Regions from separate parts of the Homo sapiens genome. Here regions 1 and 3 are each linked to region 2. The links come from fine-mapping of genetic effects on gene expression. A gene starts in region 2. Each other region holds a variant in brackets. All regions are shown on one strand. Distances are from middle to middle.

The links. PIP is the estimated chance that this variant, and not a neighbour inherited with it, causes the effect. A credible set is the group of variants that fine-mapping cannot tell apart.
Region 1: its variant is the best candidate, but not a certain one, in a credible set for the expression of TRIM9 in lung (GTEx, PIP 0.63).
Region 3: its variant is the best candidate, but not a certain one, in a credible set for the expression of TRIM9 in monocytes after triphosphate RNA (Kim-Hellmuth 2017, PIP 0.65).

What each region holds. Positions count from the first base shown.
Region 1 is chr14:50,990,154-50,997,544 of GRCh38, forward strand. All of the region lies in intron 7 of TRIM9 (tripartite motif containing 9), which reads right to left. Among named protein-coding and RNA genes, the nearest start is that of PYGL, 49 kb to the left of the region's middle. The variant C/T (reference allele first, on the strand shown) is at 3,675.
Region 2 is chr14:51,091,389-51,098,779 of GRCh38, forward strand. It overlaps TRIM9 (tripartite motif containing 9), which reads right to left and starts at 3,717. Exons shown (of 13, transcript NM_001387360.1): 1 at 2,730-3,717. The coding sequence starts at 3,551. RefSeq lists a silencer at 3,709-3,778.
Region 3 is chr14:51,804,962-51,812,352 of GRCh38, forward strand. LOC101927598 (a long non-coding RNA gene) reads left to right here. Exons shown (of 8, transcript XR_002957605.2): 3 at 3,660-5,319. Among named protein-coding and RNA genes, the nearest start is that of GNG2, 52 kb to the right of the region's middle. The variant C/T (reference allele first, on the strand shown) is at 3,179.

The DNA.
Region 1 (7,391 bases), 100 kb before region 2:
ACTACAGGTGCATACCACTGCACCTGGCCAATTTTAATTTTTTCTGTAGAGACAAGGTCTTTTTATGTTGCCCAGGCTGGTCTCAAACCACTGGCCTCAAGCAGTCCTCCCACCTCAGCCTCCCCAGTGTTGAGATTACAGGCATGAGCCATGGCACCCAGCCCATATATTTCTTTTATTTGTTCATTAGCCAACGCTATTGAACACCTGTCATGTGCCAGACATTGCAGTAGAATTGAGCCGTTGGGAAACATAAAGTTGGCAGGAGACTCAACCATAAGAAAAATAATAATTTAGAGAAAATCAGTGTCATATATTATTGATTGGTTTTTACACTTCTGGGGGTGGAATTTCTTGACTGACTCCAAGGACAGAGTACTAAAGATTTTTGCAGATGTTGTAGAATATTTGAAAAGGTAGCCTTTGGGGTGTTATTTTTGGAATCTAAAGAGGAAAAGCAAACAGATTGTGGTTGCTTATGATAGTGTATACTAATCCAGTGCCCTCTGTGTCCTGGTAGAAGTCTGGGTTGTCCTCCTGTCTGGCAGTGAACAACTTCATAACTTAAGCAGCCCTTGAACCCAGGTCCAATAAGATGGTTGTATTTTGGAGCACGGTAAGGCAAGACATGTCACGAAGAATTGTACAGTGTTAAAGATGAGTTTCAACTCAATTATAAACCAGCTGTAAAATAATTTGCTTTTGTTGGGAAGATTTTAAAAGAGACAAAGAAATGAATGAAGAATGAGGCTGTTTTCATAAATGGTCTTATAAGCAGCCAAAGTCACAATTATGTCCAACTGGTACATAATTTATAATAAAAGGTGGTATTTTAAGCTTTGTTAAGTGTGGCATTAATTGCAATTGAGAAGTGAGAAACAAATCTGTTTTGAAAACCTTCTTTTAGAAGAATGAAACAGCTTTTGCCACCCCAAGGACAGATGCATACTTCATCACCAAGTTCTCCACTCCAATTTAGAATACCATGGCATTATTTATAAGGAACTATCATCAGAGGAACTGAAAATTCCTGTATTTCAATTACATACAGAGGATTCCAAAGAATGAAACTGCTTTCCAGGGTATCAGTTGCAAAGCACACTTCCCAGAACCAAAAATAGGGTTCTGAATCTCAGTCCCATGGAAAAATGCAAGAAATTCCCTGGGATATCATGCATGTGTCAAAATTTAAAAGAACAAAGTATCTCTCTTTTCTGGGCTCTGAAACCTATCATTATGCCTCTCACCTTGGATTTTGTAAAATTTACCCAAATATGGTCAGGTATGATTACCTACCTTGAGAACTTTGTCCTGGAAATGCATATTCTTCTAACTATTTTTGGAGAGGCCCAGATGCTCTGGGTCAGGAAAAGCAGAGACAGAAAAACCATCTTTCAGTAGACCATATACATTTCCTTATATGATCCTTTATCAATCATTTTCTATTAGTGTTGAATTTTCAGTATCATAGGCATAACTTTAAGACTCATTATGACCCTTGGAGGAGGCAGGAGGTATCTAATGCTGCTTCATAGCATTTTCTGAAACAACTTTCAACAGCAGTTTTAGAGAGAGAAGCCACAAAGGTACTAATTGTAAAGACTCAGAGGTCCTCAGCTGTAAGTCCATGGTTTTAGAGATGAGAAAACTGAAGTCCAGAGAGGCTAAGGGACATATCCAAGTTACACCACAGCTGTGGAGGGATACAATAGAGACTCAGGTAGGATCAATTCCTGGAGGATAAAATTTTGGGGTGACAAGACTATTGCTGCTCCTTTGTAACCTAGAAATATACAAAAGGTAAAGCTTATGCCACTGGCCCCAGGGCACATTTCAGTGGTCTCAGTGGGGACCAAGGTTTGTGTAGAGGACCTAATAAACCCTAACTGTGTTAAGGATACATCTTTTCTTCTTTAAATAGAGTGTTTAGTTTATGTAGTGGTTAGGGATTGGAAAGGCACACACATCACTGTCCTCCTTGGAATTTTGGCTAGAGGGATTAGATGGGCTGAGGTGTTCCCTGTAGTTGTTCTTCTGACAGGTTCTTTGTTCCTCACAAGGTGACAGCATTTCTGGAGGTCTCAGCACATCAGGGTGCAGTACTTATGCTGGACCAAAATCACTATTAAATATGAGCAAAGGAGCTGGGCACGGTGGCTCATGCCTGTAATCCCAGCACTTTGGGAGGTCAAGGCATGAGGATCGCTTGAGGCCGGGAGTTTGAGACCGGGCTGGGCAACATAGTGAGACCCTGTCTCTACGGAAAAAAAAAAAAGCCAGGTGTGGTGGCATGCCTATAGAGCCAGTTACTAGGGAGGCTGAGGCAGGAGGATCACTTGAGCCCAGGAGGTCAAGGTTACAGTGAGCCACGATCGTGACACTGCACTCCAGCTAGGTGACAGAGTGAGACTCTGTCTCTGGAAAGATAAATGAATGAATGAATGAATGAATAAATAAATAAGTAATTGCAAAAAGATTCTGGACAGATGCATCTGAGGCCAATTTGCATTCAGACAAATGGAAGCATAAGTTTATATTTTGTCTGCACCATTACATCTTTTCTGGGTGGTTTCCTTCAATGCACAGAAGAAGGAGCTACTACAATGAAAGGGGCAGCGTGATGCTGAGAGTCTAATCGGGGAGAAAGACATTTTAATCTTTATGAGTAACATTGTCTAGGCCCACTTTTTAGAAAGCAGTTTTTAAGATGTAGTTTCAAGAATCCCAACCTATTTGTCATTAGATAAAACAATCCTGAAAAATGCTGGGTAGATGGCTTGAGAGCCAGCCCTCTTTTCTCTAATTATCACTGACTACCTTCTCCCCATTTTCCCTCCCAGTTAGGACAGGCAGGGCTGGAAAGCTTCTGTGAATAAATGGCTCTGTGATGTCAACCCAAGCAGGGCTCTGAGTGCCAGACCTCATTTGGTAGTAACTTTCATTTGGTAGTATCAGAGCCTCAGAGATGTAGCTCTGATATTCCTTTTCCTTCCCGGGCAAATCTCGTCACTGCCAGCCAAGAGTATCCACTGGTACCAGTGGGGGAAGGGCCTCTCTAGGTGACCTGCTCACCTGGGATGGGAGGGAGCTGGAGGAAATTTCTGCAAAGACATGAAAATGAGCACAGGACCTGATAAAGAGTTTGGATATTATGCTGGAAATGATGGCCACTCCCACATCTTCTTAAAGCTGGAACGCTACTCTTTTCAACAAGACTCTTTTTTTTTTTTTTGAGATGGAGTTTCACTTTTGTTGCCCAGGCTGGAGTGGAATGGTGCAATCTCAGCTCACCGCAACCTCTGCCTCCCAGGTTCAAGTGATTCTCCTGCCTCAGCCTCCCAAGTAGCTGGGATTACAGGCGCCCGCCACCACACCCAGCTAATTTTGTATTTTTAGTAGAGACAGGGTTTCTCCATGTTGGTCAGGCTGGTCTCGAACTCTTGACCTCAGGAGATCTGCCCAACATGACTGCAAGTAGTAAAGTCCTCCTTCTGGCTGGGATTTCTGGATGAGCATATGAGGCAGCTACACAGCGCTGCTTCATTTTGACAAGGTGTTTTCAGTCACCTTGCAGACAGACTTTGGATAGTTTTCCCTCTCTTTCTTTCCATTTGGTTGAGGGCAAATAGCACTTTTCTAATGTTAGCACCACAGCGGACTGTGCTGAGCATTGG[C/T]GGCTTAAAGTCCTGGATCTGACATATTATTATACTTAACCTCTCAGCAGCTCAGTTTCCCATAAGTAGAGAAAGATGACAATAATAATACCTTCCTCATAAAGTATAGTACTAAGAATAATGGGCCATCTAAAAATGTCCACATCTGAATCCCCAGAACCTGTGAATATGTTATTATCCATGGCAAAAGGGACACTGCAGAGGTGATTACATTAAGGATCTTGAGATGGGGGGATTATACTGGATTATCCAGGTGGGCTCAAGGTAATCACAAGGATCCTTATCAAAGGCAGGTAGGGGCTACATGGTGGCTCATGCCTGTCATCCCAGTACTTTGGGAGGCCAAGGGAGGAGGATCACTTGAGGCCAGGAGTTTGAGACAAACCTGGGCAACACAGCAAGACCACATCTCTACAAAAAATTTAAAAAATTAGCCAGACATGGTGGCACATGCCTGTAGTCCTAACTACTCAGGAGGCTGAGGTGGGAGGATTCCTTGAGCCCAGGTGTAGGAGGCTGCAGTGAGCTATGATTGTGCCACTGCACTGCAGCCTGGGTGACAGAGTGTGACCTTGTCTCAAAAAAAAGGAAGGTAGAAAGGTCAGAAAGAGATTGGAAGATGCTACATGTCTGGCTTTGTAGCCACAAAGTCTATCTAAATAGACTAAATAGATAGACTTTGTCCTACAAAGTCAGATGTCTAGCCCCTACCTAAATAGACTTTGTAGGCAGAATCTACTTAGATAGGAAGAGGGAAACTAGAGAAAAATAAACAGAAAATGTCCTATCCTGTTCTCAGCCCTGTATGATTTTTTAAAACAGGAGTACAGCTTGTCTCACACATAGCATAAACCTTAGAACTCTGTGTATTAAGATGGCCTTGCTGTGTAATGTTTTCAACAGATACTCTTTTGCAGATGGTTTCAAAGACTGGCACAGCCATGATGGCTATTAGATGAATTAATTTAAAGATACCCATGACCAAGTTTTGGGGCTTGGGGGCCTTATTTGAAAATTTCATTAAAATTCTTAATTGCTTACAGTTATATTTCATCTTAAGTCAGTGTAATTTGGTTTAGATGTGCAACTGGCGTTTTTTCCATGGGTGTCTTTGATACATCTCCAGGAACTTTGCTTTCAGAGAACTATCCACACTTGGACTCATATAATAATGCATTCTCCTTTCCTTTTCTCTGTCTCTTTTTTTTAAGATGGGGTCTCACTATGTTGCCCAGGCAGGATTCAAACTCCTGGGCTCACAGGATCCTCCCGTCTCAACCTCCCAAGTATCTGGGATTACAGGCATGAGCTACGGCACCTGACTCCTTTCCTTTTCTCTTAATAGCATGTTCTTTATAATTTCCATTGAATTTAATTAATTTTTATTGCTTTCCTAATTCTCCTATAAAAATTTTATCTTCCTGCTAATCCCTTTTCCCTGTTTTTCAGTGTTTATCACAATGTGTAAAAATGGAACTATTTATATGTTTATTTCTCTAAGGCTTGTTTCCTTTTCTAGCTTGTAAACTCCAGGACAGTAGGGATAACGTCTGTTCAACACTCTATACCCACAGCCTAGCACACAGTGGTCACTTATCAAGCACTGCCCAATAAATAGACAGATAAATTTGCTTTCGAAGAAAAAACCAATCAAAATTTATAGTAATGTAGACATTTGATCTCCCCTGCATAACGTTACCTTTAGATCAGCAAAAGGTTTTGTGAAAGCTCACAGAGTACAAAAGATGAGCAATTTAAACCTCAGACTAAATGCATGTGATTACAAGTTAGACTTGTTACCGCATATGAAATTTTACCTTTCTGTGATACAGAATTTTTGTTTTGAAGTTTGAAAAGGGATTAACTCTTGCTAAGAAGAAGGTGAAAGATTTTGTTACACTAGAAAGCCAGAACGCACCACCCCACCACCCCCAATACCAGCAAAGAAAAAAAAAATCTCTAAAGCAAACCTTTCTGGAAACTGTAGGAAATAAGATTAATAAAGCATAAGTGCAGTGAATGTACCAAAACTCTGTTAATAGCATTTTTCTCACTGATTTCTAAAAAACAAACAAAAAAGAGATAATTATTTGATCCTATAGGCTTTGTCTATTGTTACAGATCGATCATATCTTTTTTTTTAAAATAAGCTATTCACTATATTTTTTCTTGCTTTCTAAATCTTGTCTCACTGAATGTATTAGAATGAGGGAGAAACAAATAGAACAAACCAAAGTTATGGAGAAAGTATGTGTGTGAACTTTATTTCATCATGAGAAAATTACTTCTGTGCAGTAACAGAGAATACTGATATCTATATGATGATAGGCTTTTCTTTGTATTCAGATACATACCTTATATTTGTACACAATATATAAAATTCATGGAGGAAATTAATTTCTACAGTACAGTTTCTTTGTTGGAAGAGAACTTGTTCCGTTTGTTTCATCTAGAAAATGACCCCCAGTTCTGTGACTGTGGTACCAAGGATCGCAGTTCCAATCCTGTAATTTATTAAATTAGACACCATAATCTTATGAACATTAAAATAAACTGAGGCGCTACATCCTCCTGCAGGATGAAACGAGAGACATAAGTGCTCAGGCTGTTATGCTAATAACTGATTTTTACCAGAATAGTATGATTCCCATGATGTATTATGAATAGAAATAGTTTTCCCGCAGATCTGATAACACATATTAGCAACATTGCTACAAATTTCTCTCTGCTCTGCAGGCATGCACTTCACTCTTCAATCAAACCACCTTGTACACACATGGGAAATGAGGCCATCACCAGCAAGGGCCTTCTGCGTTGCATCTAGGAAAGACTCTTGGAGGGCTTTAGCAGTTAGTATGGTATTTTGAGAAAAGAGGCAACTGCTCTCAAACTGATAGGTCATCCCTGAGAGAAGGTGCTAAAATGATAATTCTGGGGGAAGCTGTAGCTACCACATCACTGTACTCCAAATGGGAACAGGTCATGTGGGCATTTTCCCTCAGCATATCCTTCTCTTGGAATAGCATCACTTAGACTGACAACTGCTCCCCAAAGCACTGTTTTCACGGCTAGGGGCCTTTCATCCTTGCTGTAGGATTCAAAATTGTGCTTGTTTTTAACCATGTGAAGCATTTTAGGGTGACTGGCACATGTTGAGGTTTGTGGGAAGTGGGAAAAAAAACACCACCATAGTTCTTTTAGCTAACATCTTGAACTTGAACAAAATCAACATAATTAGTTCTGCAGAGGGAAGTTATGGAGAATCCCGGTGAGGTGGGGGGGTGATTTCTTTGATTAAAATGACACCCCAAAGTGTCAGAATGCTTTGGCACCAGCCACAAATACCTCCTTGTAGGTTTAATTTCATGTGTCTTGCTTACTCTTAAAATGAAAATGTTAAAAGCCTCAGAGGTTATATCTGGCCATCAAATTCAAGCCTCTCATCTGAGACACATTACTTGTCTTTGATGACCAAAATATTTAAAGTATAGCTAAGAAGCAAAAATTCTCTAGAGATGAACCTTGTATGGTGGCTCTCGGTAGCCTAGCCAAGACTGAAGGGACTGGCAAAGATGAAAATGGCGGGTAATGCGAAGTTGCTGGTCTCTTCCTGTTTGGTGCCCACAGGAAGTCTCAATCCTGGTGCTGACGGCCTCCGCTTTGGGTATGAAACGGAGGCAGTCTAAGTGGGTAAGCCAGGAGCAGCCAACAGGCCCT
Region 2 (7,391 bases):
ACAACTTTTCAGGTCTAGTAATAACCTGTGTTGATAACTAACTGCCCAATTTTGGAAACCTAGTTAGTATAGTTCTTTGCTGTCCTATTTTTGCAGGGCATAGAAATTCTGGCCCATGGGCTTTTGTGGAGATAGAAGTACCATTAACTAAAACATAAACTATATGAGAAAACTGGCTGCTAACACATTAACTTCCTTATTAAGTAAATAAGGTGGGGGAGTAATGTTTGTTGTTCATCTAACAGATGACAAGTGAATGTTAAAATCTGTCATCCTTCTGTCTTATTTTTTTTCTTGGCAGTTTAGTAATCCTCATATTGACTGAACAAAAATTATGTGTCCTTACTGTTTTGGAAAAAATGTGCAAAAGATCAGAGAATAAATGGTCTTCTAGCCTACTTATGTCATGTTTCAAGGGTTTTAACATTCTTTTGTGGCAGGTAGATATCTAAATCTCAACCCAGGCAGCACCAGTGTCTGTCTACTCATAATTTCTATTGCCAATAAAACAAATGATTTAACATTTCAAATTGACATGGGGCTTGACAGAGATTTAAAGGTTTCTTTTGGTCTTAATAGATCAAGGATAGGCTTGTCATAAAAAAAATAATAATGTTGTGGTTTACCCATCCTAATTACCTTGTGGCTCTAAATTCTTTTTCCTGACAGAGTGATTAATTTTTTAGTTCCAAGGATACTTTGTAGGGCAATTCAACATGGACTATAATTAGCAGTTTAAAAGTGAAATCAAAATATGAATAAAAAACTAGCTGTGAACTCAAGTTTTGAAAACTTTCAAAATTAAATGTCATTTTCAAAAATTTAAATTCGACTGTTCTGAAAACAGTGGTGTGTGCCCAGTTAGGCTTCAATTTGTGCTAAATGAAATCCCCATCAGTACTAATATGATTTAATAGGTTATATGTGAGAATAGAATGACTGTAAACATGGATCACATTCAACCGGGTTAAGGAGTTGAGAAAACTTTCACTGATTGCTGAAAATTAATGACATTTTTTTCTTGCTGTAAACAAAATATCAATGTTCCAGCCTTAACTCCACAGTTGGCCACTTGCAAAAGCTACCCTTTCTAGTCTCCAAGGAATTCTGGGAGACTCTGAGCAAGGCCACAGCTGAGGCCTGGACACTATCTTCACTGCTCCATCTCATCCTTGGGTATGCAACTCAGTGATGTAAAGAAAAGCTCCTTCCAACCATCCTGAATCCCTGCCCTGCACTCCACAGCCCCAACTAAATGGATCATTTAAAAAATGAAAAGCAAATTCATGCACATCTCCTCAAGAGTTGCTCCCTTCCTTCTAAGCAGTGTGGGCATATTATAAGGATCTTCTTCCTCATGAGGCTTATTTCGTTTATGTCTGTGTGTGTACAGGGAGCAATAGATAAATACAAAAAATAACATAATTAAAATATATAGCATGCCACACAGGGATAAATACTACTGAGGAAAATAAAGCTGAGAGGGAACTAGCGGGTGTCTGGGTGGGTGGCGCTGCAAAGATGATACCTGAGCAAAGAGCTGAAGGATGCAGGTAAGTGACCCATTCGGATCTCAGGTAACTGGGGAAGAGAGCTTCAGGCTGAATGAACACCAAATGCAAAGGCCCTGGAGTAGGGAGGTGCCTGGCGTCGTTTGAGGAACAGTAAGAAGCAGTGTGGCTGGAGCAGAGGGAGTAAGTGGGAGGCAATGAGGTCGAAGGGGCCAAAATGGAAGAGGTCATGTAGGACAGGCTGAGAAGCGTGGGAAAAATTGGAGGGTTTTGAGCAGAGGAGTGGCACGACAGAATATGTTGCTAAAGCCTCTTCGTGTCTAGCCATGGTGGAAATATCATCAAAAGAGACTGGAAAGATAAATCTGGTAACAGGTGTCCCAAAGTTTGCACATATAACTACTGAAAGAGGAAAGGGCTTGAATTCCGGAGAAGTGGGTGTGTGTATAGTTGGGAGGAGAAGGTTTCCCTAGGAGATGCACCTGTCTGGCTTCCAGGCCGCGACTGCGCAAACTCCGGTCCTGACACTCTAGTCTCAGGTCCCAACTCCGGAAGGGTTCAGGCCCAAGCCTGCACGTCGCGTTGCCATGGCGACCGCTGGCTGCCCTCTCCGCTCTGTCTTTTGAGCACGTGGCACCAGGACCCCGCGTTCTCTCCAGCTCGAGAGCCAGGTCTGGCCCAGAGCCGGGCTCATCAGTATTCCGCCTGCGGCGTCTCCCCGACCCTCCGCCGTGCCTCACCAGGTCCGCCTATCCAGCAGCGACAGACTCCCGCCGTCCGCGCGACCCCACCGCCCCCATCCCAGTCCCTCCCCGAGGGTTCGCAGCCCGCCCTGCCCTCGAGCGTGCCTAGCGGCCCTGGGCACTGGCGCGGCTCTACCCAGCTATGCAGTGCTTTCCCACACACTGGCCGCGGCCACTGGCTGCAGACCCGCCGCGGAAAGGGGGCGCCCTGAGTCCCGCTCGCAGGCAGCGCGCCCCGAGAGACCCGCTCTAAGGCATCCCCGCAACAACTCTGTGGGGGCATTCAACTCCCCCGTGCGCCGGTTAAGATTCCCCCATGCCTCCTGCAATGCACCAGACCAGGGAGGTAAACATCGAAGGCACCTGCATTGCGCCCCCACTGGGATGCGCTGTGCGCAAGAGACGGGGACCGTCTGCTGCAAAACCGGATGATCGGAGACGCAGGGAGTTAGGAGTGGGTTTTCTTAGGACTCACCTTATGTAGTTTCCACATGGCCCCCAGAGCCTTGACTTCGTGGCTGGAGTGTTTGCCCTCCTCCAAGCACTGGTAGCACACGGGCATCTTGCATTGCACGCAGTACATGCTGTGGTTCTCCAGCTCGTGGTCTGTGCAGGTGGAGACCTTGCGTGGGCTCAGCCTCCGGCTCACACGACCCTGGGCCGGGGGCACCAGGCGGTGCTTGGCTAGGGGCCCCCGGGGCGGGTGGCAGCGCAGGCGGCACGGATCGCAGTAGAAGACATCGCACTGTTCGCACATGACGGTGGCTTCCTTGGGCGCCTTCTCGCAGAGCTGGCACTTGAGGGCCGCGGCTTTGCTCTGCTGGTAGCGGTCAATTACCCCTTCCAGTACGCGATTCTTGGGGAAGCCGCGGAGCCCCCGGTCATCCAGGATGAGGCTGCGGTGACACTGGGGGCAGGTGATACAGGAGTTGCGGGGCACCGGGGCCAGGGCCGGTGACAAGTGGGTGGCCGGTGGCGGCATAGCCGGGGGAAACACGCGGACGCCGTTGGGGGACTTCTGGCACGGGGTAGTGGGGGCGCTGGCGAACCCCCCGTAGGAGCCATAGCCGCTGTCCGCCTCGCTGTATAGGCTCATCTTGTCCAGGTCCAGATAGTCATAGTCGGAGACCCCGGAGCCCGCGGCCCGATGGCTCTGGGGGGATTCAGACTCTGGGGTCTGCACCAGGATGTTGCGGGCGCACGCCTGACACAAATTGTGAGAGCAGGGCAGGATGATGGGCTCCCGATAGAAGGAGCCGCACACGGGGCATTTCAACTCCTCTTCCATCTCCTCCATGGGGACCGGTCTGGGAGGAGACAGCGACGGCTGCAGCGGGTGCCTGAGCTGGCGAGGTGGCCGACGGGCCCGTCTTGTCCAGCACCCTGGCCAGCGGCGGCGGCTGTGGTGGTGGTGCCTTCCCGCGCAGCACTGGCACGGACACCCAGAGAGGCGCTAGCTCTGTGAGCCGCAGCCGCGTAGCCGCCGCGCCGCGCGCCAGCCCGGACCGCCCCTACCTGCCCTCCTAGTCCCGCCCCGGCCCATGAGCAGCGGCCCATTGGGCGGGGGGCAAGAGATCGAAGCTCTCATTGGCCACCAGACCCGTCCGTCTCCTCGTCTCCGCAGGCCACAGGGGGTTCGGTAGAGTCTGAGGATAGGGCAGTCTTCGCTCGCGGCTGCAAGATCTCTGAAGGGGGCCGGCGTGCGGAGGCTAGGGGACCGGGAAGGAGGAGTTAGGCGGGATGATTCATCCTCGCCCGGCTTACTTCCGACCTCCGGTGCAGTCTCCCAGGAGCTGGGGGCGTGAGAAACCCCTCCCCGCAGCGAGTGGGCTGCCGGAGGGGGCTGGGGCTTCTCGCCAGCGTTTGCGTTTGGCTCCCAGCTCTGAGCTCCGCGCCCACCTACCGCGGGCGAGTGCTGCGCAGCACGGAGGACGCCCCTTCTCTTCCGCTGCTGGCAGCCTTCGCAGGCGTCTCACCCGGGCCTAGGCTTCTGCACGGCAGTGGGGCTTTTCTCCTTCTCCGTGAATCCGCTGACGCCGTGCCCTGGAGCTCCCCCATCCCGGGAGTCTGACGGCGCTGGCGCAAGCCCTGGCGACACTCTTGGCTTCTTTCATCCTGCGTCCCTCGTTTCCTAAAGAGCATGTATAAAGTCGATTTCCTAGTGTCGACATGAGATTCAACTGGGTAACCGATGGAAATGGTCAGCATTAGTCAGAATCTATGACCCCTTCGTTTCATGCTTTAAATTATAGCTCGGCCCAGAGGCCTCAGTGCCGTGGTGTGAACGTGCTTCCTTCCACGGATCCTTCTTCCTCCTCGCGGCCTCCCAAAGCACCTGGCTGAGCTTTTTCGAGGCCCGCTGGGCCTTTGGTTCGGTTGAGGCAAGAACAGTTTGTCTATTTCTGAGTGCCCGTAGTTTAGTAAAGCTCTGTAAATGAATCACTGTGTGACTGCGGAGTCTCAGTGTTTCACTCCAAACAGCATTATTCAACCCCACGTGCCCTGGGCATCTGCCATAGCTTACAGCATCGTGTGCCTTTCTGTTTCTTCCAACGAGGGGCATGGTGAGGCGGTGATTCTAGTGTTAGTCCCTGTACAAGGAGGGAGGGAGGGAGGGAAGAAGGGAAAGAGGGAGAGAGGGAGGAAGGAAGGGGGGGGGAAAGGAAAGGCGGAAGGAAGGGAAGAAAGGGAGGGAGGAAGAAGAAAAGGAAAGGAAAATCTTTGAGTCAAGTGACATTCTGAGGTAGTAACATTTGAAATAGTACATAGCCGGCTTTTGCTGAATGATTCATGAAGTAAAGGACAAAAACTCTTTGCAAGTTCTAGAAATATTCCAATTTTCCACCTTCCAGACAGGAGATAACTTGATTATATGCAGCTATGTTGATAATTTAAAAGTACTTTATTGTCCAGAAAAAAAATGGACATTTTATTACACTGCCCTTGTAGAAATTGTCCAATAAACTAGGTTATCTTTTCAACATCTTTAGTTGCAGTGAGAACAGTAGTTGATCATTGTGTGGGGGAATAAAGTCCCCATTGTTATTTAAAGCCATGTTAATCATAAATGTGACGTGATTTATTTTTAAGCTGGCTTTCAACTAGTTGAGACCAGAGCATCCAAAGGTATATGCACTCTGTTTACAGACATAGATAAAATTTCTTCAGGTATGGTTGGGACATTAGCTGCACTTGCAGGATACACTTAATTTATAGGTCCCAAGAGAAATTACTAATAATTATATTCAATATAGTATTAATTGAATTGTAATGAAAGTTAATTATTGAGAAAATATTAGAAAGGAGTGTCCTTTTATGGCTTTTGTATGCATTTGACCACAAGTCACAATATCTTGGACCAGCAAGGTGAGCAGCTGTTACACTTTGTATGAGTTTGAACTCTGCTTATAATAGTATATCATCTAAGAGATCTTATTAGCAGAAAGTTTATGCTTAGTTCAAAGTAAAGAAGAATTTTAGAGGATGTCTCATGGTGTAATGCAGTGTTGGGTTCGCAAAAAGAACAACACAGGTTTATAATATAGTCAATATAGAAAGATTTGGTCTATTATGAAGTCGCTTGAGATGATTTCATTGTTAGATCTGTTTGTTTAGGAATTAGCTAAATCAGTCAATCCTAGGAGAGCTCTTAAAATGACTCATTTGTTGAGAGTTCACCCTGTTCCAAACAGGGGATTTATTTATTTGTATACATTACTTGGTTAAATCCCTGTAATTACAAGAAGAGGTAGGCACAATTATTCCCATTTTACAGATAAATAAACTGAAGATAAGCAAAGACACTTAAGTACTCAAGGTCAAATATGGTGAGGCTGGGATTGGAACCCGGACACATATAAGTTTGTTCCTTTGTTCATTCATTCATTCATTCATTCATTCAACAAGTGCTGAGTTCTACTCTCTTCAAGCTCTGAATGTGATAAGTACCCAAAATGTTCTTTGTTAACTTCTATGATATTCTGCTCACCTTCTCTGAAAGTTTACTTTTTTTTTCCTTTTTTTTTTTTGAGACTGGAGTCTTGCTGTGTTCCCCAGGCTGGAGTGCAGTGGCACAATCTTGGCCCACTGCAACCTCCACCTCCCAGGTTTAAGTGTTTCTCGTGCCTCAGCCTCCTGAGTAGTTGGGACTACAGGTGTGCACCACCATGCCTGGCTAATTTTTACATTTTTTTTTTTTAGTAGAGACAGGGTTTCACTATGTTGGCCAGACTGGTCTCAAACTCCTGACCTCAAGTGATCCACCTGCCTCAGCCTCCCGAAGTGCTGGGATTACACGCATGAGCCAGCGCTCCCAGCCAAAAGTTTACTATTTTTCTTTGAATCCATTTCTTTAAAATATTCTTGAAGGCCTTTGAAGATTTTCCCCTCATGTTGCACTGTTTGGCCATAATGTGCTTTATAGCCCCCCAATGACTTATGTTTAAAAGGGAATAAAAATTGAAATGTAATTGGTAATATTATAGAAATATTATACTATTGAGGGGATATCTTCTGTCTTCCAGCTGGTGATCAGTCCATGCCCTGAAGCACAAGGATTGATAGCCCTGTAATTTCATCATTCCTGGGATGATTGCAGATGTTCTCTTTTGTGTAAAGTGCCTAATTATCCTTTGAAACTTACTATTCACCCAAATTATGTTCTTTAGCAATGAGAGCAATTACATTTAAAGTGCAACAACAGCTTTTGCATTTTTAAAAAAAGATAAATGTTTTTCTTTTTTTGATAAATGTTTTTCAATGAAAAATTGAGTTGCTTTCCTATTTGCTTTTGACTACAATGCTTGATTATTAACAAAACAGTCTCTGTGAGTCTAAAGAATGAACACAGAGAAGAAAGGTTTTTCTTTCCACATTCTCTCCTAGAGTAGTCTATCCTTAGTTGTGGGAGGGGGGTGGAAATCAGTGAAAGGAGCTGATCTTAGGCTCTAACATTTTAAGATTATCTGACATGTATATAAAAATATTTTATTAAGGTATTTGAATAAGGGTCTTGCTGCATGTGGTTTGTAAAAGTACATCACTTGAAAAGTGATAAATGTGATGTTTCTATTCTCAATAGAAATTCTGAAGAAACTTCTTTTATGGAATAATTTACCCCATTTAGTCTACTAATATT
Region 3 (7,391 bases), 710 kb after region 2:
CAATAGTAGAATGAATAAATTGTTGTATATGCATTTGATAAAATATTACACAGTATTTATTATATATTTATATATAATATAAAAGTACAAACTACTTATAAATTGTAAAAAATCCTTGTAAAATTCATCAAGCTTTACACGTAAGACTAGGGCACTTTACCAGATATATGTCATATCTCAATAAAAAGTAAAAATCAAACAGGAAAAAAAAATGACAGGAATGTGCATCCAGAGTTGAAGAGCCTTGTTCAAGAGCCTCCAGCCTCAAAAGGGCATTTAACAATAGGTCACGCTCTGCTTGGTTTATAGAACGTACCTTGTCCCTCTTATTTCCCTGAAGTCCTTCTTTCAATGGGACGCCATGAAGACTGGCCTTCCTGTGTCATTCGTGCCCCCCAGCCTGGGGGCAATGGGAAGGAGTGAATTAAATGCTCTAAATATTAAACTACTTGTAAACTTCCATTTTTGCTTATAAGAATGTCTTATGCAATGATACCACTGGAAAAGATAAATCCAAAATTTATCTGTGTATCTTCCTTTCCTGTGATATTTTCTAAACTGTAATATGGATGATATGTTGCTTTTTTCTCATATTGTACAGTGAAGAAGCTCCTTGGCATCCTAGGCTGAAAGTGAAATTCATTTTAAAATATCTCTCCTGCCTTCAAATGATGGTCACAGCTATCTGACTGGGAAGCCAATTACATTACAGCCCCCACTCCAGCACATCTTAATAGAGTGCTATACCTCAGCAGGGAACAAAAGTGCGGCTGCCCCTCCTGGCCCAAGGCTGGCAGAGGCTTCTCAGCCCTGCCCAATGCCAGTATCTGAAATAAAAACAAGTAGTTAAATCTTCCCTTCAGATTGAAGATTCCCATCCAGTTCCTAGAATGAATTAAAATCCCATTCAAGATTGACATTATAAAATTCTTAAGATTTCCACTATTTACGGTTGGAGCCTTCTTTTTCCAGTAGTGGGTTTATCTCTAACCCTAGAAAATACCCTTCTCTTTATTTTGACAATAATCATCACAAGCTACTCTGTGCAAAGCAAGATTTCAAAGCAAGTTAAGGTCCAGCTTTTATCCTAATGAGATTTATCAGGGACGTATGACATCTGCAAAAGGAAACATATTATGGTACAAACTATATCAAGATTTTTTTTAAGGGAGTTCAAACAACGTGGCCTGAGGGTTCAGAGTGGCTGAGATCACTTCCAATTAGGAGGAAATAACCAGAACCCCCCCTTGCCAGTCTCTGCCCATGCCATATTTACATAAAGAGCAGTTAGAGGGCAAGAATGATGGAAAAGCAATTGAAACCCTACTGGATCCTCTGGGAGAATGTCAAAGGAAATACAAGAGATTGGCTGCAGCAAATCCCATCCTCCTCCATTTCTCTCTATCTCCCACACACTCTGGATAGAGAGTGGGAGAGGCTGCGATGACCCCAGGCTAATTAGTCTTGTCCTGTAACAGATGGCTTAGATCAGCCTCTACTGTAAACCTCTGATGTTGTTCCTCCCCCTTTCTCTCCATTCACCAAAACAATAAAAACTCTAAGATCTGGAGCTTAGAGTGTACTGATGATGTGATTAGTCTGAGTATTTTATCTTCATTTAATTTTCATCGCCGCCCTCTGAGCTGGATTTAACTCATGTACAAGCTATAGATGAAGAAACCAAAGCATAGAGGAGTCAAGTAGCTTGCCAGATTCTCACAGCTGGTATATGGTAGGCCCAGAACCTTATCCTGGACTCCAAGCCCATGCTGAGATTGTTAAGTGTGAGCTCCATGGAACCTTCCTCCAGAAACAGGGCTCTGGACTACAAAGACAGCCCTCCAGACTGTAGCTGTCCAGGGCCCTGGGGCTGAAGAAAGACTTGCATGACCACAGGAGCTCACACTTACAATCCATACTCTCACTTAGCCTCAAAGTATTTGATGGTAGTATGTTGTCTTTGATTTTTATTTGTATCTATTCATGTCTGTGTGCCTGCCATCTCCGCACCATCATAAGCTGTTGAGGACAGAGACTATGACTTCCAGGACCCACTAGGAATCTGATATTGTCAGGCTGCCTTGACAAGAGTATGGGTTCAATAAACACCTGATTCCCTTTCCCATATTCCCTTTTGCTCCCAGTGCCTAGCACATACTTGGTACTCCAAAAATATTACATGAATCGAAGACAGTAAGGACACAAATGTATTTCAGAATTTTAGGCATAAGTTCTACATACCACTTTCATTTCTGTAACTATATTTTGTATATTTCATGCTACAAAACAAATAATAAATAATGGCAGGAAGGCTTATTACAGAACTATCAGATGAGTTATGGCAGACTAATAGCAATCTTGCCCCAAAGCATCATCTGATCTAATGCATTAGTATGATTACTCTCAGCCTTTGAGTGAATTTAAATCATGCTTTTCTTTCTCTCTGTTAGTAAGAGCAATGATTAACCTGTTCATGAAACAAAACAAATGGAACTGGAAAAATAAGACTCACAAGCCACAGAATATATGACTAATGATCAGAGGGAGAGAGGCTAGCAATATCCGCAGAGGTCTGCCCTCAGCTCACAATTCATTCCCTTAGCTCATCCCCACTTGCCCTCACTCGGGGATCTGTGCTCCGTCACGTGTAGCAGGAGCTGCTGGGTCTCCTGCCCAGACTCTGCTGCTGTAAATCATTGCTCCTCAGAGCTGAGTGTTGCATGCCAAGATTGGAATTGCTAGTATCCAGAATCCTGCGGACAAGCTTCTGCCGTAGACTTCTCCTTTGGATCTGAAAAGTGCCCTTGTAAAAAGGGAATTTCAGTATTGGGAGTCCAAGGTTTGATAAGATGAGGGTTGCAACATGACTAGGTAAATGGAACCTCAGATGACTGTGAGATTACCTTACAGGGCATGGGTTGTGCGTTTCCACCTTACAGAAACAGGGGTTCTATGATAGGAGGAGCACTTCAGAAGCTGAAGAAGCACTTAGACACCCTCCCCTGAAATATTTCTCATTAATCAATTAAATCAAGGCATTTTGGTGCAACGGTGACTCCTTAGGGATTATGTATATATTACTTCTAATCTCCCCTGCCCTGGAGCTTAAACCCTAGGCCTCACCTGACTTCTTTGTGTTTTGCACCAAACTGAGAGCTAGAGCCACCAAATACTACTA[C/T]TAATTAACATTTATGAAGCACTTACTAAAGCCAGACACTGTTCCAGACCTTTGTATTAGCTTATTTAATTCTCACAACAACTCTCTAAGGTAGGATTTATATTTCCCTGTAATTTATGGTTGAACAAATGGAAGCACAAAGAAGTTTGGTAACTTGCTCAAGCTCAAAGAGTAGGTAAGAGTTGAGATTCAAACCTAGATAAGGGTAGCCCTGGAGCCCACTCTTTAAACTCTGTAATATGGCTATGCTAAGAAAGAACAGTAGGTAGAGATGTCAGAAGAGTCAGAGGCAGAGGTATGTAGAGGGAGAGGGAGAAGATTGCCACAGCTTCCCGTTGCCACTCCTCGCTTCCAAAGATGGAGTCCATATGGGCTGGCTCCGTGACTTGCTTTGACCAATAGAATGTGGCAGAAGTGACATTGTATATGTTAGAGGCCTAAGCTTTAAGAAGTACAATAGCTTCTGCTTTTTCCCTTTTAGAAACCAAGGATAAGAACATTAAGATTATCCTGCTGGAGAGAGAGGCCATGCGGAAGAACCCTGGAAAATGAGACAGCTCACAGAGCAAGAGGCCATGTGGAGAAGGCCTAGAAGTAAAATGCCTCATGGAACAAGAGGCCACATGCAGAAGGCCTGGAGGATGAGACGCCCTGTGAAGTGAGAGGCCACGTGGAGAAGGCCTAGAGGAGGAGACACCTTATGGAGCAAGAGGCCGAATGGAGAAGCCCCAGAGGGTTAGACACCTTGTGGAGCAAGAGGTCACACGCAGAAGTCCTGGGAGTGAGATGCCTCACGAAGCGAGATGCCTCGTGAAGCGAGATGCCTCGTGGAGTGAGAGGCCATGTGGAAGAACCCTGGAACTCAGCGGCTGATAACACAAAGATCCCATGGTGTGAGAGAGGCCTTCATGAACTTCCCGTCCAGCCCAGCTAGAGCCAAATGGAGCCATATGTGTGACCGCAAGTGACATCTACAAAAGAACGACCCAGTCACCCTGAGAATTGTTAGAAATGCAAAGCACTAAGTTTTGGGGTAGTTTGTTACACAGCAATAGCTAACTGATACAGATGGTTTGAATTACTTGACTTTAAAGTTCCTTCTTACCCTGAAAGTTTATGGCTTAGTAAAGTGAATTAAGCACATTTGACTGAAACAGAGAGATGGTGTAGGAAAAGATCAGAAGGTAAGGGCAGGGCAAGGTGAGGAAGGCTTTCCGTGCCACGATAAGGAATTTGAGCTTTAACTGGTAGGTTCTGAAGCTGTCCCAGGAGGAAGTGACATGAGAAGATAGTTTTTTAGGAAGACCCACACTGCAGCAGCATGTAGATCAGACACGTGGGCACACAGAGCAGATGTGAGAGAGAAGGAGGCATGGAGACCTGATTGCTGAGGCAAAAAGATGCAGCTGACAATTATGGAGCAACAAGCTACTGAATACAGAATTGAACATTCAGTCTTCAAGACACAGATGTAAGCTGCTTTCTCTGTATCAGCCTTCTCTGTATCAACTCTTCATTTTTTCCAACTATGATGTTTTTACTTTCAAAAATCCATGGGAGAATACATGGTATGTCGTTAAAAGCCTGGGATTTGAAATAAGAAAGCCTTAGCTTTAAACCCCTTCTCTCACCTTCTAGCTGTGTAACTCTGGGCAAGTTACTGAACCTTGCTGTATCGCAGCTTCTTCATTTGTAAAATGGATATAATGATATTTGTCTCACAGGAGTAATGCAAAGATAAAAACGGATTATGTCTCATGCATTTACTTTTACTAAATGGCTAAATGCTCAAGCAACACAAATACATGATTATTTCTCTTTCACGTAACAGTCCAGGTTGGGAGTGTCAGGTTGAGGGGTGGATCTTTTTCACATCTTCTTGAAAGAATTCGTGGTAAAAGCTGTCTTCAGTTTATGCCTTCCAAGGTTCTTTTGGCCATCGCCATTCCAGAAAGAAGAGGAGAAGAGAGCATGAAGGAGCCCGCCTAACATGTTTTATCTGGCTTCTCAGAAATGGCACATGCTTCTACTTGCATTCCATTGGCAAGAACACACGGCACACCAGCTGCCCACGGGGATAGGGAATCCCAGCTAGAATTCCATCCAATAGAAGACAGAGGGGAGAGAAGAGCAGGGTATTGGTAAGTGTCACAGAATTGCTAAACCAACCTGATTGCACATATCTACCACCAGACCACACACCATCCCAGTTCAATCATCACCCTTTGGGATCCAGCCTGGACATCACAATTTTTAAAATCTCCTGAAGTGACTCTAATGCGCAGCAAAGTTTAAGAACCACTGGCTTAAGCCACCATTACTTGGTTTTTCTATGGCTTGCAGCTGAAATCATTTCTAACTTATAGGTTTTCAGGGGAGGTGCTTCTCAGCCTTGCCTGAACATTAGAATCACCTGGAAAGGTTTAAAAACATTTCAAGCCTGGGCAGCAGGGTGAAACCACATCTCAACAAAAAATTTAAAAATTAGCCTGGTATGGTGGTGTGCCTGTAGTCCTAGCTACTTGGGAAGCCAAAGGGAGAGGATTGTTGAGACCAGGAGGTTGAGGCTGCGGTGAGCCATGATCACGCTACTGCAGTCCAGCCTGGGGGATAGAGCAAGTTCTTGCCTCAAAACAAACAAACACAAAACATTTTAGTGGCAGGCCATGCATGGTGGGCCAGTAATGTTGGTATTACTGCTGTAATTTCAGCACTTTGGCAGGCTAAGGTGGGAGGATTGGATGAGACCAAGAGTTCAAGACCAGCCTAGGGAACACAGTGAGACCCTCATCTCTTCAAAAAAAATTTTTTTAATTAGCAGACATGATATTTGGGAGGCTGATACAGGAGGATCAGCCAGAAGGTTGAGGCTGCAGTGAGCCGTGATCACACCACTGTACTCCAGCCTGGGCAACAGAGCAAGACCCAAGCCCTAAACAAACAAACAAACAAACTTCAATGCCCAGGCTGTACTCCAGACCAATCATATCAGAGTTTCTAGGGGTGGGACTCAAACATCTGTAGTTGTTAAAGCTTTCCAGGTGATTCTGATGTGCAGACAAGTTTAGGAACCACCGTGCTCAAAAAATGGTTACATTGTTGAGACTTACCTCCTGCACACCTCTCTGTCTTATGGGTTAAGACTGCACTTCTCAGCCTGGCACAGTGGCTCATGCCTGTAATCCCAACACTTTAGGGGACCAAGACAAGGGGATTCCTTTTGTTTGGGAGTTCAAGACTGGCCTAGACAACATATTCAGACCTCATCTCTACTAAAAATTTTAAAAATCAGCCAGGTGTGGTGGCACACACCTACAGTCCCAGCTACTCAGGAGGCTCAGGCAGGAGGATCTCTTGAGCCTGGGAGATAGAGGCTGCAGTGAGCCATGACCTCATGACAGAGCAAGACCCTGTCCAAAAAAAAAAAAAAAAAAAAAGAGACTGCACTTCTCAAACTGCAATGAGTATAGGAATTTTCTGGGGTCCTTGTTAAAACACAGACTCTGATTCAGTAGGTCTAGGGTGGCACCTGAGATTCTGCATTTCTAACAAGCTCCCAGGGGAAGCTGGCCTACTAATACATGGTCCACACTTTGAGTAGCAAGGGGTTAAGCTACCATAAGGAGTTCTGTAACTCTAAGTTACAATTTAGCAGTTAGTTACATGAATAAAAATGTTTGATAATCAGTGAGGAATATACTTTCTTGTTCTTTCCTTCAAGGGAACTATCATCCCATAAAAATGTAATAAATACTTGCATATTTCAAGCTGTCTAGAGGGCTGTTTCAAATTACCCCATGAGACATCTCAAAAAAGAAATAGTCCTCTCTCAGTACCCAAGGGGAATTGGTTCCAGGACCTCCATGGATACCAAAATCCACAGATGCTCAAGTCCTGGATATAAAATGGTGTAATATTTGCATATAATCTATACACATTGTCCTGTATACTTTAAATAATCTCCAGATTACTTAAAATGCCTAATACAATGTAAGTGCTATATAAATAGTTGTCACACTGTATTTTGTTTGTATTATTTTTTATTGTTGTGTTATTATTTTTTCCCAGATATTTTAGATCTGCAGTTGATTGACTCCACAAATGTGAAACTGGTGGAAACAGGGCCAGCTGTTTTCGACAGATATCCTCTCTTTGAGGAAAAATGGCTTGATCTTTTGTCCAAGGAAGTTAGAAAACTGTAGGCAGAGAAAGT